2 separate regions of the Homo sapiens genome follow, and region 2 is reported to be linked to region 1. Evidence: microRNA targets listed by miRTarBase, many of them from high-throughput screens and not tested one by one. Region 1 holds a microRNA gene; the other region holds the end of a gene's coding sequence.
The links. Region 1 holds the annotated microRNA hsa-miR-3663-5p (GCUGGUCUGCGUGGUGCUCGG, at 2,815-2,835, shown strand). A microRNA usually pairs through its seed, bases 2 to 8, with sites in the 3' UTR of a target mRNA and lowers its output. Matches are read on the target gene's strand: a 7mer-m8 pairs with bases 2 to 8, a 7mer-A1 pairs with bases 2 to 7 and ends in A, and an 8mer does both.

Region 1 (5,073 bases):
TGCCAGGGGAATTTGACCCATTCAGAGAGGGTTAATTAAGCTAAGGGAAAAGGCATAAATGTCTCAGGCAGAAGGAATTGGCTATGCAAAGGCCACGTGATGGGATGATGTCATCAACCATTCTTTCAGCAGACAGCACTGACCCCGTGTGCCCAGCCGCATGCTAGAGGCAGGAATACAGGGGAGAAAGACCAGCACTGCCCCCAAGAAAAGCCCACGATGACTGTCGGACCTAGGAGGATCCTTGGAGAACCTGAAAAGGTTTCACATTGCATGGAGGATAAGACTAGAGCCTTATAAGATAAGACATCACTGAGAGTTCAGTTGTTAATCCTGGGAGGGGTGAACTCATGAATGATCACTGGGTGTGGTGGTGCATCCCTGGCTCTAGTCTTACCCTCCATGCAACGTGAAAACTTCTGATGCCCCAACTCAAACCTAATTTTCAAGCCTTCGTTAGCTAAAATCTCACCGAAGTCCAGCTTTAGGAGAAATAACAGATACTATTCCCTGGCTTATGCCAAACTCTTTACATGCATTGTTTTGTTTTTTTATCTTTGTAACAACCATGTGAGATTGCACTAAACTGACACTCAGAGAGAAGGTAAGTCATGCCCCCGAGTCATTCAGCTAATAAGTGAAAAGAAAAAAAAAAATCAAGATCCAAACCCAGGTCATTCTGGCCCTAGAGCTGAAACTCAGTGAAAACCAAGCTCTAGCCAGGAATTGTGGTTAAAATAAAGCTTCAGCCAGCTGGATACTCCAGGGTGTTTAGGAATGTGAAGTTTGTGGGTATATCTTGGTATTGTGGTTGTGTTGATGCTATTGTAGTTTTGGTAATGTGGTCATCTCTTGACAGTACATGCTGAAATGCTTGCAGATTAAGTGTGGCAAGGTCCAGGTTTTACTTCCAAATAATCTGTGTGAATAGGGGAAGCAGTGTGTGTGTAGGTTTTGACAGCTGGGGAGGCAGAGTCCGTGGGAAGGAGGGGAGGAAATAGATTGACCATAAAATAGATTTGCCTTCGTTATTTGGAGGTTGGGGACAGGTGCATGGGAGTTCACTATAATATTCTCTTTTCTTTCCTATATGTTGGAAATTTTCCATAAAATGTTTTTTTCCAAAACAAGTTAAGTTCTGGGTTATGTTTTGATGGCCTACTCCTTCATCTCCAAATCCCATAGACTTTCACAATTATATTTGCCCCCGTAATTGGAAGTTGTATGGGGCTGTTTCAAAAATCTGAGTCATCAAAGATGTAATTGACTTCCTACCGCCGGATTAGCAGGCAAAAATGTACCCGATACTTTCTCTACCGGCGCTGTGTTGGGCTCTGGGCTGAAACCCAGTCTCTCACAGGCCCTCGGAACAGCCCCACCAGTTAAGATCCATCCCTGACTTCCAACTCTGTAACTAGGGACAAGTTAATTGACTCCTCTTAGCCCTTAGTGTCCTCATCAATTATTACGTGGTAATAACCCCTCAGAGAGTCGCCGGGAGAATTAGCTCGGCGCGGTGCATGGGGCTAGAACTCAGGGCCCAGCAGGTCTGACAATGCAGGTTTCCCCGCTCGCCTGTTGGGTTTTTGAAACGCCCTCAGCGGGGTTTTCCTCCTAATTCTGGTTTGGAGGAGCCATCTCTCTCCATCCCGTCTGCCAGCGGGGTTTGCTTCACACACAGACGTGGGCAGATGGCATCGGGGACACAGGTGTGACTGCCGAGAAGGTTGCGGCGCATTGGCGGTTCGGTTCACGGGACGCGGGCGTGGGGTGTGTGGGGTGGGATGGTGTCGGGGGCGGGGGGGGGTGGACAAGAGGGTGTTTGGTGGTGGTTGGGAGTCCCGGCGATCTTTTTAAAATTCAGATGCCAACAGTTCTCCACCCCTGAACTTGAATGGGCTTTGGGTTTTTGTTTATTTGGGGCTTTTCTCCTCTTCCAAAGCACAGCGCTTGCCCCCAGCGGCCTGGCGTCGGGCTGGAGCCCGGCAGAGGGAGGGAGGAGACCGGCATCCGCGCTCGCTGATCAGAGAGAGCCGGGCCTGCTGCTGGGGAACGTGGAGGGGCTCCGGACAGCCACGCGCCCTGGCCGGTCACGGAAAGCTCTGAGGGACATTCGGTCGGCCGTCGGGGAAGAGGCTGGCCGCCGCAGCGCGAACTGGGGGTGCGGGTGGAGCGGCTAGAGGCGCCGGGGTGAGTGGGGATGGAGCCCCGAGGGCGTGGTGCGCGCTCGGCTTCCTGCCGCCAGGGGGCGCCCACAGGCAGAGCCGGGCGGGGCGGCAGCTACAGAGAGAGGGGTGCGTGGAGAGCGACCAGGCCAGGCCTGCAGAGCGCAGCCCCGGCGCCATGTCTCCAGGCTCGTTCCGACTAGTGTTGGGTCACCCTCGGCTCAGCCCCGGGGGAGGACGAAAGGGTTGCGTGCAAGGCCTAGCACCCAGTGGCCATTCATTAAATACGTGCTGGCTGACGAGCTCAGGAACGGCTCTAGGGAGCAGCTGGCTCGGAAACCTCAAGTCCAAGCCCACTCATTCCCGTCTCCCTCCCCGACGGCCTTTTAGTTACCGTGCCCTGGGCCGCGACGGCTTCCTTTTAGATTGGGGCAGCAAGGGAGCCCCTGCGCAGCGAGGACGCCGACGGGGCGGCGGGGAGGGGTTGTCCGGCGGTATCCCCGCTCCGTGCTCCTCGCCTTCCACTGCCTCCCCGGGACACAGCAGTCATGGCTTCGACTGTGACTTCTTAACTGGCTCCTCCCTGATCGCTGAGCTAAGCCACAGGAGAAGGGGAGGAGGGCTTCCTTCCCGGGACCTTGGTCCAGGCGCTGGTCTGCGTGGTGCTCGGGTGGATAAGTCTGATCTGAGCACCACACAGGCCGGGCGCCGGGACCAAGGGGGCTCGACAAGAGGATCTCAGAACAAGCTGAGTCTCTGGAACTAGCTGGGGTGCGTGGAAGTACGCGCCACGGCCCGCGATTCCTGGGAGCGTGTCTCAACTTCTGCCAGTGCCAACGCAGGAGAGAGAATTGCGGCTCAGAGAGGGTAGCGTGAATGGAAACCGAAGGGCGAGAGCTTGGCTCTCTAATGCCACCCAACTTAGTGGTTCAGAGCTTGGCCTCCAAGGAAGATTCAGTTCAAGTCCCCGCTCTCCAACTTACCAGCTGTGTGATCTTGGGGGAAGTTAACCTCTCTGAGTCTGTTTCCTGCTCTGTAAAATGGAAATTTAAAAACTTAAACATCTACTTCGGTCGAGGCTGTTGTGAAGAAGTGGGATTGTGGGTGCATAGCTCTTAGCACAGTGCCTGGCACAGGTTAAGGCTGGATACGTGGCAGCTGTGAGGCCCAGTGTTCTCGTAGCTGGCCTGGCCAGATGCAATCATAAGCGAAGATGACTCACTTCCCACAGCAGAGGTGTGCGAAGCCCTGCGCACCTGCTGTAGTCTGCACCCGGGCAGAAGAGAACCCAGGAGCGTCGGGACCTCCAACACTCAGCCCTCAGGGCTGAGGACACTGCGCTGTTTCTGCCCCTTCTAAAACCGGAGGCCGCGATGCCCCTGTGCAGTACCGGCTGGCGCCCACCCTACAAGCTGATTCCTGGGGGCCTTTCCTGCAGCGGACGCCGGCAACCATCACGACCGACCTTGACTGAACACATGTGGGCATCCTAAGGACATTACCTCAATCCTCACACCATTCCTGAAAAAAAAAAAAACAAAGAAACTGGTGCTCAGAGAGGCGAAGTAACTCACTCAAGGTCACACAGCTAGAGGGTGGCCAAGCTGGGACTCCAACCCACTCTGGCTCCGGAGCTGGCGCCGCTTCCTTCCTACCTCTCTATCAAGCTCAGTCTCAAAGCCTGGGACAAACCATCCGGTTGGGGTGGGAAAGGCCACGCACGTCCTGGGGTCGAGGACCCTGTGCCCACGACAGCAGTCTTCTCGGCACCCGTAGAAGCCAGTGCCAGACAAGTTGGGTTGGAAGGGGCAGGCTGGGCTGGCGGAAGGGGGCTCTGGGCCCCGCCCTGCCTGCGCCCCCCGCGGATCACGCCTCCGTGCTCAAGCTCCTGCCAAGTTTGCCCCCATCTCTCAGGTGCCCTTGGACTGAGTGACTAAGCACCTCGGCACCTCTCCAGCCTGGGGTGCGAGGAGGGGCTGGCCCTGATACCCACTTCCTTTCTTCTCTGGAAAGCCAAGGTGCCAACGAAAGATGCCCTGGAAGCTGGTGTTCCTTAAAGAATGAACAGTCCCAGCTCCAAACGTGTCTCTCTGAACGCAAGCCTCTTCCTTCCGTTCGCCTGGGCCTGTAGTCGAAGTCTCCTTGGGTCCCCAGCCCCCTCCCGGGTAGACGTCAGCCTGGAGGTGGATGCCGGAGTCGAGAAGGGTTGCGGACCATGCTGGGGACCTGGCTCAGGCAGTCAGGGGTCCGGGTCCTCTTTGGGGAAGTGAGCGCTTGAGGAGGAGGGAGAAAGGCTTTTGAGTACGGCTTGGGGGGACTTCTTGAGGTCCCTCGGGATAGCTTCTCTGTTAGGCGTGTAGCCAGGAAAGGAGAAAAAATCTGTCCCGCGCAGCCCAGGGAGGAGCCTTGCAGCTGCGGAGGGGGGCACTTTCGGCGCTGGATACCAGGGGGCAGTGCTGCGCAGCGAATCTGCCGGGCTCCAGCCGGCAGCCCGGGGCAGCAAGTTTGCTGAATTCCCTCTGTCTCTCGAATCCGCTACGAAGTTCCTCCCAGGGCGCTCCTGACGCCAACAGCCCCCTCGCCCCGTAACATGCGAAAGAGGGCACGGTCCTCTCTGTCCGCGCGTTGCCGTCGGTGCGGGCGTCCTGGCTGTCTTTCCTTGGTAAAGGCAGCTACCACCGGGTTGGTTTTTGACCACTGACTTGGCCCTAGGGAAACGTAAGGTGGGGTGGCGGGGTGCCCCGTCGGGTTTTTGCAGGCCGTGTGAGCAACCTCAGAGTAGAGGTTTGAGGGGACTTTCTCAGCCTGGGCTGGAGCCCCCAAAAATGCAGGCGCCGCCTTTGAGAGGAAAAAAAAAAGCGCTGGAGGTTGGCCGCCTGCATTTGATCGCCTTCCGAGTTTACGTAGA
Region 2 (5,073 bases), not on the chromosome of region 1:
CCCAGAGAGACAAAGAGTTCCTGAAGTCCACGTTTCTCCTGGTTTACCATGACTGCGTGCTCCCACTTCTCCACTCCACACGCCTACCCCCATTCAGGTGGGCAGAAGAAGAGACTGAGACTGCACGGTGGAAAGTTATCACTGACTTCCTTAAGCAAAACCAAGAAAACCAGGGCGCCCTCCAAGCTCTGCTGTCACCAGACGGAGTTCATGAACCTTTTGACCTTTCAGAGCAGACCTATGACTTCTTGGGTGAAATGAGAAAGAATGCAGTGTGACAGTGGCAGCCTCTAGCCCTCAGCTTCCCACGGAATCAGATGGATCCTCCACGATTACGTGAATAAAATGATGGAACCAAAAATCACTGTCACTTTACAACTTAGGTTTTACTCTTTTCTTTCTACAGACCATATTTTTAAAGAAATGTTTATACAATAATTTAAATATTTTTTAAAACCATAAAATAAATTTTTATAAGGAATACTGTTATATCTAAATTTAAACAGTATTTATTTTTTCAAAAACAGCTACTTAAGTTAATGGTATAGATTTCTATAAAAGCAAGATTTTGTCAAAAACTAAATTTATGATTATTCAAGAAAGTGAAAAAAACAACCTACAGAATGGGAAAACATATTTGCAAATCATCTAACTGATAAAGGTCTAGTATCCAAAATATTTAAATTTATGAGTGTTAATAAAATTTATCTTGTTCAATGAAGAGGAAGTTAAAGTGATCCATTTGAGAAAGTTGTATCACTTAATTCAGTCTGATACTTGAATGTGATTTACCCCTAATTAAGTACAAAAACAGAGTCGCTTTTGCCTTTTCAAATCAAGAAAATAAGTGCTCTGTCAAAAGCACAAAAAGAAACTTTCAGGCACTGGAGAGTGGAGTCGACTCACCCTTTCAGGCCTTGTTGCATCTCAGATAAACCTGTGACTGCTGGTAAAATAATGTCCCAAGCCTTTCCTTTTAGTGATAAACAGTAGCAGCCTGCGTTAATTGAGCACCTACTGTGTGTCTGAGCATTTCTCATTAGCCCAGTTAATCCTCACACCTACTGTAGGAGATAGGTACTGTTGTTTTTTATTACCGCCGAAGAAACAGGCCAGATAAGTGAAGTAATTTGCCTAAGGTCACAGCTAATAAGTGGCACAGCTAATATTCCCAGTAAAGATACCATGTATAATTTTCTACAACCTAAGATGTTCTGCCTTATCGGGGCGAACCTTTTAGGATTCCATGTGAAAATAAAATATGAGGAAAAGTTTAACCTAAATAATTAGAATCCCATTAGAGGTACTTTTTTTTGATGGCATGCTGCCTTAAAAGAGCCATTTATTTTTAGAGATCTGTCATATTATGAAAGTTCTGGGCTATCTTAGCTAACTTATCCTAAACCCTTAACCTAAATTTAACTTGAGCCCCAGTCTCAGAAATTAACATGGTATGAAGGTGTTTCCAGGCCAGGCGCGGTGGCTCACGCCTGTAATCCCAACACTTTGGGAGGCCGAGGTGGGTGGATCACCTGAGGTCAGGAGTTTGAGACCAGCCTGGCCAACACTATCTGTACTAAAAACACAAAATTAGCTGGGCGTGGTAGTGCGTGCCTGTAATCCCAGCTACTTGGGAGGCTGAGGTAGAAGAATTGTTTGAACCTGGGAGGTGGAGGTTGCAGTGAGCCAAGATCGTGCCATTGCACTCCAGCCTAGGCAACAAGAGTGAAACTCCATCTCAAAAAAAAAAAAAAAAAAAAAAAAAGAAAGAAAGTGTTCCCAGCCACAAATGTGACAAGTGAGAACTGGGCCTTGGAAAAGAGATTTCATTCTCCAGGAACTCATTTCAGGAGATCTCTCCCTGTGCGTGCCCTTCTGCCCTCAACCACACAATACAAGGCTGAGTGTGGCAAACACCTTCCTTTTGCCCATCAGCTGCCTGGGCACACTTACAAAGTGGTGCCCCCACTTCTCTAGCACCGCGGCCCTCCCCAGCTCCTGCTCCCAGGGAGAGGGCTTTGCCTTTCAAATGGAGGTGGTAAGTGTGCACAGAGACTTTTTGCTACTCTGTTACTGAGTTGCCTCCTCTTACTCTTAGTCCCCTGCAGTCCTGTTTTTGAAAGAACATGAGCCCATATCACTCCTCACTGTGAAAGTCATTTCTCTGTAGAAATGACTTTTAATTTCTAAGCTCCACCTTTTTATTTTTTATTTTTATTTATTTTTTGGGCATTTATTTATTTATTATTGATTTATAATTTCTAAGCTCCACCTTTTTATTTTTATTTATTTATTTTTGAGGCATTTATTATTTATTATTATTTATTTATTTTTATTTATTTATTTATTTCTGTCACCTAGGCTGTAGTGCAGTGGTGCAGTCACAGTTCACTACAGCCTCAACTTCCGCGGGCTTAGGTGATCTCCTACCTCAGCCTCCTGAGTAGCTGAGAGCACACACACGTGCCATCATGCTTGGCTAATTTTTGTGTTTTTTATTGTAGAAACAGGGTCTCACTATGTTGCCCAGGGTGGTCTCGAACTCTTGGACTCAAGCAATTCTCCTGCCTCAGTCTCCCAAAGTGCTAGGATTTCAGAGCCACCATGCTTGGCCATCTTTTTATTTATTTTTTTTAAGCATTTGGCTTATTCTTAGCGTTAAGCCAGGGGTGGGGCATTTTGAGTGAAAGAAAATGCTAGTGAATTTCTTTCAGTGCATGTACAACATGAAGGAAGAGAAGGCTTTTTATTAGAATGCATTTTCCAAGACTGTCTTCCACGTTCATTTGAGAATGTGTCATGAGCTGACAAATATGGACAACTTCATAGTTTCTGACACATTAGGAAATCATAGGGACACCAGAGAAAAAGCTTAAGTGAAGCTTAGGCCAGAAAGTGAGGTACATAACGGAAGGGAGAGACCCAGGGGTGTGGGCATTTCTGCTATTAAGAGACTCCACCTTCTCTTCAATCAGTGGAATCTTTTTTTTTTTTTCAAACAACAAAATCTCTGTGACTTTAAATGCCACTTACTGGCTTCCACAACGGAAAAGGTTGTCAAGGAGCCAAAAACATCCTGGAAATGAGTCCTCGTGGGTCTGTCTCAAGGAGTGTGACTTTAGCAACTCACTGAATTAATTGTAAGAGTCATGGTGGTGGGGGGCGGGCAGCAGCAGGGTGAACAGCAGGTCTTTGCCGAGTGACCACACGTGTGGTGCCTACCTCCAAGGCCAGGGGGACTCACCACACCCGAACCATGGGAGGGCGGCCAGGGCGGGGAGTCTGAACTGTGAACTACATGGCTCACTCCTCCCCACCCTCCCAACCTCTTAATTGGTTGAGTGTCATATCCATCAGGTCTGCAGAGGTGAAAAATGTTGCAACTCGCTTGCCTGGGTGCTTGGAATGAAAGTCTAGGGGCAGAGGCAGATATTAAAGAGCAGGTATAGTCTCTGTCTTCAGTGTTTGTGATCTAATGCGCAAGGCCAGAGCAACTCACATAAAACCAGTTGACATACATAACCCTGTGTACAAATGGAGCAAGTTTGACTTGCCAACCCAGTAGCAGTTGGGAAACTATCAGTTTAACAGAGGAAGCCAGCAGTGTCCTCTGCCAGTTGAGGGCTTTGTCAATTTACAGCATTATAGGATATCCTTTGCTGTGAACTGCCTCAGCTTCCTCTTGCGTGAAGCATTCTAAGTTGGGAGGCTTTCTTGGGGTGTGGAGGTGATCAAAGACAGCTGTCACCTAGCTGCTGTGATCTGTTTCCTCAAAACAAAGAGGCAGAGAAAGAACCTTACTTAGGGCACTTTGCATCTAAGTGTTACAATTATCCATTCATCATTTACTCAACAAGTGTTGAGCACCTGCCATGTTCCAGGCACAGCACTGAGCTTTGAAGATACAGTGAGAACAGTCCTGGCAAGATCTCTGTCCTTACAATGCATGAGGTGGACAGTAATCAGCCAAACACAAAAACTAATTCCAACAGTACTATGGTTGGGGCTGTTAGTGGCCCCGTGGCAGGCATGAAGTCAATGGTAAGTGTACAGGCATTCCTTCCTATCCTCACTCTCCCTCTCCCAACCCCACTGTCTGTTGTTGGGGACCAGTTAGATTCAAATACCTTTTCAAATGAATCCCTCACTATTTGAACTCCCACATTTACTCTCTGAAACTCAAGGACACGTGGATTTGGTAATACTGTATCCCTCAAAACTCAAACTTGCTCTCTGAATTCTGATATTTGAATGCAGTAACCAAGTCAATTTGGATAAAGAGGGATGGGTATAAAGATAAGTGAATGGGCCAGGCACAGTTGCTCACACCTTTGGGAGGCCAAGGCAGGCAGGGTGCTTGAGCCCTGGCATGCGAGACTAGCCTAGGCAACATGATGAGACCCCATCTATACAAAAATTAGCCGGGTATGGTGGTGCAGGTCTGTAGTTCCAGCTACTCAGGAGGCTGAGTTGGAGGATTACTTGAGCCCAGGAGGTTAAGCCTGCAGTGAGCTGTGATCATGCCACTGCACTCCAGCCTGGGCAACAGGGAAACCTTGTCTCAGAAAAATAGTAAGTGAATGGCAAGTGAAAGTCTATAGGTTATACTGTCTCATAGGCAGGAAAATGGAGGTCGAGGATGTTCTGCTCAGTGATGACTGATACTGAATGAGGCGTGCAGGTCTGTGTGCAGCAATATAAAACAGAACTCATTAATGGAATACAGCTCACATTTGGGACTTTGATAGTGTGCCTGTCATTTAGCCCTTTTCTGATACTCTGTAAGACAGACTGGACCTTAACCTGCTCATTTGTATCTGACTTTGCCAGCAAAGATTAACTTTGCAGAACTGTGTCCTTTCGAAGAGGCCATTTTGGGGAATAAAAAGGTCTCCATGCTTTCTGAGCTCTTCTCCAGGTAGGAATCTCTGGATGACCCAGACATTATCCCATTGAGTCCTTCCTCTTTCCGGGCAACTGTTCTGTACTTGCCCAACTCCAGAGACACAAGAAGCCAGACTCAATTCTGCCTCATGGCTACGAACATTAATCACAGCATCTTCCTGAGTCTAT

Region 2: the mRNA of NPHP1 is a reported target of hsa-miR-3663-5p. The part of its 3' UTR that is shown has no 7-base or 8-base seed match.

What each region holds. Positions count from the first base shown.
Region 1 is chr10:117,165,496-117,170,568 of GRCh38, reverse strand. MIR3663 (microRNA 3663) reads left to right here and starts at 2,795; the gene lies at 2,795-2,891. MIR3663HG (MIR3663 host gene) reads left to right here and starts at 1,514. Exons shown (of 3, transcript NR_121651.1): 1 at 1,514-1,709. RefSeq lists an enhancer at 4,422-4,976.
Region 2 is chr2:110,118,996-110,124,068 of GRCh38, reverse strand. NPHP1 (nephrocystin 1) reads left to right here. Exons shown (of 20, transcript NM_001128178.3): 20 at 6-721. The coding sequence ends at 278. Among named protein-coding and RNA genes, the nearest start is that of MALL, 5.7 kb to the right of the region's middle.